2 separate regions of the Homo sapiens genome follow, and region 1 is reported to be linked to region 2. Evidence: microRNA targets listed by miRTarBase, many of them from high-throughput screens and not tested one by one. Region 2 holds a microRNA gene; the other region holds the end of a gene's coding sequence.

Region 1 (3,073 bases), not on the chromosome of region 2:
AGTAAGGCTAAAGTCCTTTTTCCTTCACCCCTACCCTCTCCTCTTTTGCATCTAGAGATTTGGAAAATTGCTAGAACCATGAATTATTAGGTATGATGTTTTATTTTATTAGGTTGGAATGAAATACAGAAACCTAATCCTGAAACCTGGGGGATCTCTGGACGGCATGGACATGCTCCACAATTTCTTGAAACGTGAGCCAAACCAAAAAGCGTTCCTAATGAGTAGAGGCCTGCATGCTCCGTGAACTGGGGATCTTTGGTAGCCGTCCATGTCTGGAGGACAAGTCGACATCACCATGTGTTACTGGCCTGGAAACTGAAGGGAGTTTTGCAAGTGAAAATTTAGATTTCTATTGACATCCTTTTGTTTTCTAATTTTAAAAATTATAAAGATGTAAATGGAATTATAAATACTGTGACCTAAGAAAAGACCCACTAGAAAGTAATTGTACTATAAAATTTCATAAAACTGGATTTGATTTCTTTTTATGAAAGTTTCATATGAATGTAACTTGATTTTTTACTATTATAATCTAGATAATATGATATAAGAGGGCTAAGAATTTTTAAATTGAATCATATATATGATATAATTTGATCCTTCTTGTATCTTGAAGTTTTGTACTTGGGATTTCTGGACTGATAAATGAATCATCACATTCTTCTGGTAAATATTTTCTTGGAGCTCTGTGTCAACTTTGATCCTTTGTCTCCCAGGAAGGTGTGACCTCTCCTTTGCCTGCATACCTCAAGGCCAGGGGAATATGCCTCAGTGATGCATTTATCTTTGTATATCAGGCCGCATGATTCCCAACTTTCTGCCACACTTAAATTACGTTCCTCCATTTCAGTTTTGTCTTTTCTGTCTAAAGTTCAGTCAAAGAGTATCAAAAAATTATGTTTCAGCTAGACTGGTGTAATGTATAAGTTTTTGTATCTTGTATTAGAGGATTTCGTAGCTTTTATTAGAGGCTCATTTCCACCTCAGCATACAAGATCGTTAGTCTTTTGGCATGTGTGCCAATTAGAATACTAAAGCAAGTCCAAGCACATTTTTCTCTTCTCACGTTTCTAATAAGTGTTAGGGACTTTGCCTCTTTTACTTACCACGTCCCCAAAAGTGTCAGGTAGACATGTCACAAATGGCTCTGTAGAGAGCCATGGGAAGAGAGAGGAGGTGGATGTGGAACATAAAGGGTTCAGAAACTCCAGAAGAGGAGTGGGTTTTGGATAGAAGCATTTGAGGACAGCTGCTCCAAAGCCTTATGTGTATGATGAAACTTAACCACGGGGAAGAGACTCTTCAGTAGCCTGTTCTGTCTGGTGATTTTTATTTTAAGTGAACCTTTGGATCTATCTTTAACTCTCTTTATTGTGAGTCTAAATTCCAATTCTGCAGCAGATCAGTAAACTCACAGTATTTTTCCTGTGGAAATCTATTCAATAAGGAAACCAAGACAGGATAATAAAATTTAAAAAAAAAACAACTTTGAATTCCCCTGCCTAGGTCTTCCAGTTGTTTTCCAGCGCATACCTCAGGTATGACTTTGCTAGCCGGGGACAAAATTAGCACCTTCCGATTCTCTAGTCCAAATGAACTTTGTGCTAAATAAAAAATTATTATACTACATAATAAAGTTACAGATAGCAGGAAATGCAAGAGCTAGGAGATTCCTAGATTATATCTGCCAAGCAAATACCTTAAACATCCACCTGAAATCCTACTACCCCCTCTTCTGAGATAATTTGCCCAGCCCTTCTCTTCCCACACACTCACTCAATGTCACCCCCTTCTAATCCCCAAAACTGTTTTTGTGGTCTTTGTAGCCTATAGTAGTTTTCTCACATCTTTCCCCCTAGACTTTTCTGTTTTTCAGTTTCAGACAAAAAAACTCTTCAGCTTTTTCCAGTGTGTCTCCTTAACAGTAACTTTACCACTTGAAATCTTATTTCATAGAAAAACTAAATTGGTGTGGAAAGGCTGCACACAATAAAGTTATATTATTATCCATGAAAATGAACTCATATTTCTTTCATACTTTAACGTTAAAACCGAAATGCATGAGAGCAAAAGCACCATGGTGTTCTTTCTATTTAGGGCCTACCTCTAATATTTAAAATCTACCAAAGAGCAGTCACAAAATTAAAACTCAGCCCGGGCGCAGTGGCTCATGCCTGTAATCCCAGCACTTTGGGAGGCCAAGGCAGGAGGATCACCTGAGGTCAGAGTTCAAGACCAGCATGGTCAACATGGTGAAACCCTGTCTCTACAAAAATACAAAAAGCTGGGCATGATGTTGGGTTCCTGTAGTCCCAGCTACTTAGGAGGCTGAGGCAGGAGAATAGCTTGAACCCGGGAGGTGGAGGTTGCAGTGAGCTGAGATCATGCCATTGCACTCCAGCCTGGACGACAGAGTGAGATTCAGTCTCAAAAAAAATTAATACTCAAAGAATTATCTAGCATAATTTAAAAGAAAGGACTTTTTAAAAATTCTCTAGCATAATTCAAAAGAAAGGACTTAACTTTTTTTTTTTTAGTGTGGTCATCCGTCTAGTTGTTCTTTTTTTCCAGATCAGAGCAGAGAATATCACTGACATGCTTGAAATGGTGGATAACTATGTAAATTGTAATTGGACAAATGTACACTTTAGATTTATGGACTGAGCCACATATAATAAGGTCTCTCCTGGTAATTGATCCAGGGGATTTAGGCCTCTTTCGGGTTTTTTGTTTTTTTTTTAGGCATTGTTATGTTGTGAAGGATAAAATCTTCAACATCTTATGCAAATGGATAGTAGGCATGATCCTAAAGGTTTAGTTTTACGATGCTGCAGAGAAGAGAAATGTCTTGACGTTTTGCCACCTGATGTAGACTTTGTCCCCCTCTAGTATAAATGTTGCATGTTACCTAGATAAACAACTAAAAATTGCCTTGAGTTATCACCTGAGCTACTTATGCCAAGGTCTTGCCTTTCTAAAGCTAATAAGGTGAGAGGTGGATATCTGTAGCTCTTCGGATGAAAAATTGCATTGTGGGAGATACCAAAATTGAGGAAATAGCTCTTCAAAG
Region 2 (3,127 bases):
CCTCCTCCCTGGTGTCACTCCCTACCCCCTTCCTGCTTTATTTTCCTCCCTAGTTCTTACCACCATCTTTTATCCCATGCATTAGGCTTACCTTTTCTGATGATTTTCTGTTCCTATCTCCACCCACAGGGATGTTAATTCTCATGGAACCGGGATCTGTCCGTTTTGCTCACTACTGTATCCCTGGCACTTAGACCCAGCAACAATACAAAGTGCATGCTCAGAAATTTTGGGGAAAAATTTATGAGATACTATTGAATTGTATCCACCCCAGAGGAGTGTCAATGTATGCAAAGTAGGCAGTGTGGTGCTTGGTACAGAGTATGCATTCAATAAATATTGGCTAATTATGATTATTATGTCTAATTCACAGGACTGTTGTGAGAATCAAACGAGATAATGTATGCTGAGGCATGCTGTGAACACTACGTGCTGGGTACAGGAGGTACAATATTAATGATCCCTGCTGCTTGGAGGGAACTTGCACTTAAAATGTTATGCTTTTCATTTTCACACCACTTAGGAGGGAGGAAAGGCTGGTGGGACGATCGCCACCTGAGGCTCAGGGAGGGGACAGGCCTTCTCCAAGGCCTCACAGTATGAAGAAGGCAGGGGCAGGTCCCCACACTGGTGGTCTTCCCACGACTCCCTCATGACAGTCCCCCAATGGACAGATTGATGTGTAAATGACGTTATACACCTACACCATAACTCTATATAATATATAGAATTATTTTCAGGTCCCTGAGTTGCTCTGAGGCCAGTTGTGGCAGGTGGTACACACCCAGGACAAGCTGGGGGGAGGGGTAAGAAGGAAACTGGCTGTGTATCTTTGGTAAGGCCCATAGTGAAGCCTCTTTTGGTTTCTTGGAATCAAGTTGAACATCAAGAATCTCACTGCATAGACTTCCCCAAGGGCAGTCCCACTTCACAAAATGAATTTTCATTTTCCAAAGCACATCCCTTAGTTGGATTTCTGTTTTTCAGTGTATTTGTTTAAGCTCTGATGCCATGTCCAAAAAAGAACATGCCCGAACAATTCCCTGCCCGAGTCCCAAACCCTTGGCTTGATCTGAGCATTGAACTAATTCATTTCTTTGATCAAACTGGGGACTGTTTGAGCAGTGGGCTGGGCGTCATGGGACGGGGAAAGGGTGGGGTGTGCGCAGGTGTGCAAGGCGGGCTACTTGAGGGATGGGCGATAGTTCAGGTCACCCTCCGGTTGGACCCACGAGGGCGCTGCATTCCTCATTCTACAAACCGTACAAGTCGGGGCACAAGACAGAGAAGCCAGGTCACGTCTCTGCAGTTACACAGCTCACGAGTGCCTGCTGGGGTGGAACCTGGTCTGTCTGTCTGTCTAACACCAGAGCTCGGGCGCTGCTGCAGAGGGAGCCAAGATTTGGGTGAGGGAGGGGGCTCAGAGGTGGGATGGAGGGTTTTTTTGTATTTTTTTTTAACCTGGTTGCCATTGGCTTGAAAATAATAACATAACTTTGCTTGGGGACCCCCCACTGCAACTATCTTGCTGATGGGGAAACAGGCACAGAGACGTTAGTTTGCTTTGCTGATGTCACCCAGCTCGTCTGGCATTGAGGCTGGATTTGGGAGGTGGGTACTGAGGTGTGAGCATATGTGCTGCAACCACTGGGCCCACTGGCTCGTGGTGTGTGCGCAGGTGCAGATGGCTCAGTGATCTGGGTTTGAGGGCTTTTACCAATCCCCCCAGCAGTGGGTGTACTCTGAACTCAAGCTTGTGTATTTCACACTCTCCCTCGACCCTTCTCTTTAGCCTTCACTGAAAACTCCTGCAAGCCACTGACCCATGGAAAATATTTAAGAATACATATATTACATATATGTTGTAAATTTATATATATATATATCTGGAAAGGGATTGTATCCAGGAGATTTGGGAGTGATTGTTTAAGGTAGAGGGAGGCAGGGGCATGAGAGGGGGAGGGATGGAGGTGGGGACCACCAGTGGTAATTCTCGTGGGTGGTTTTAACAATCAATACAAGAAGAGAGAGACATGCCAGCAGCAAGGACGGGAGTGGGTTGTAAACCAGGGATGGTGATTAATTCTTCACAACTGAGGGGCATTAAAAAAAGAAATCAGAGTGGTTCGTGGCTATTAATTTTGTTATTAAAAATAATCAAGGAATAAAGAAATAAGGTAATAAAGGCCTCGAATGGAACAATTCTGAGAATGTGTTCTGGGCAAAGGATTATGACTAATCCAGGTCTGGTAACCTGATATTAACAAACAAAAAAGGCCTCGTAGGCTATTTTCTTTTTTTAACCGGCTTTATGTTCCATAGAATGGGCACACTGGGGTTTCTCTCCCAGAGAAGGTGAGTGCAGACAAATAAAAGCCGGCTTTGTGGGTGTTGATTGAACAGTTAAAAATGAATGAATGCGTAAATAAAACCAGAGACAGCCAAGCATGTACCAATGATGGCAATGTGTTCCTCACTCCCCAGCTTTATAAATATATAATTGATAAATCAGTATTGTATGTATTTGTATTGTATTTAAATTGTACAGTGTGACATTTTGATATACATATATATTGTGAAATGATTACCATAATCAAGCGAATTAACATACCCATCACCTCATGTAGTTCCGTTTTTCCATGTGTGCAGTGAGAATACTTAAGGTCTACTCTTTTAGCAAATTTCAAGCATGAAATACATTATTGTTAACTATAGTCACCGTACTCTGCATTGGGTTACCAGAACTTACTCCTAACTGCATCTTACTCCTAAGTTTGCATCCTCTCACTAAGATCTCCAGATTCCTCTCACTCCTGACCCCTAGTAACTACCTTTCTAGTCTCTGCTTCTGTGAGGTTATTCCAAAACAAAAGCCAGGTTCTAGGCTGTTGAGGCTGAGGGTAGGAAGTGTATCAACAGGTATACAGAATAGTCACTGGTCTTGGGCTAAATGGTGACTTCAAGTGTAGTGGCTGCATAGTCAAAAATGAATTAGATGAGTACAAAAGTGACGAAATGAAAGAATGTCAAGAATGGACCACAAAGACAGTGTTTTATGACCTAAAGATTAAGATTTATCCATTTGTGTACAATTGTGGACTATATAAAATAAAACAAGACTTTGACC

What was found. The annotated mature microRNA hsa-miR-370-5p reads CAGGUCACGUCUCUGCAGUUAC and lies in region 2 at 1,292-1,313, shown strand. An mRNA with a match to its seed (bases 2 to 7 or 8) in the 3' UTR can be bound and repressed. Matches are read on the target gene's strand: a 7mer-m8 pairs with bases 2 to 8, a 7mer-A1 pairs with bases 2 to 7 and ends in A, and an 8mer does both.
Region 1: miRTarBase lists NLN as a target of hsa-miR-370-5p. Seed matches in the 3' UTR shown: 8mer at 418-425 and 7mer-m8 at 726-732.

The regions. Positions count from the first base shown.
Region 1 is chr5:65,822,669-65,825,741 of GRCh38, forward strand. It overlaps NLN (neurolysin), which reads left to right. Exons shown (of 13, transcript NM_020726.5): 13 at 113-3,073. The coding sequence ends at 247. Among named protein-coding and RNA genes, the nearest start is that of NLN, 100 kb to the left of the region's middle.
Region 2 is chr14:100,909,860-100,912,986 of GRCh38, forward strand. It overlaps MIR370 (microRNA 370), which reads left to right and starts at 1,280; the gene lies at 1,280-1,354. It overlaps MEG8 (maternally expressed 8, small nucleolar RNA host gene), which reads left to right. Exons shown (of 51, transcript NR_146000.1): 8 at 374-445.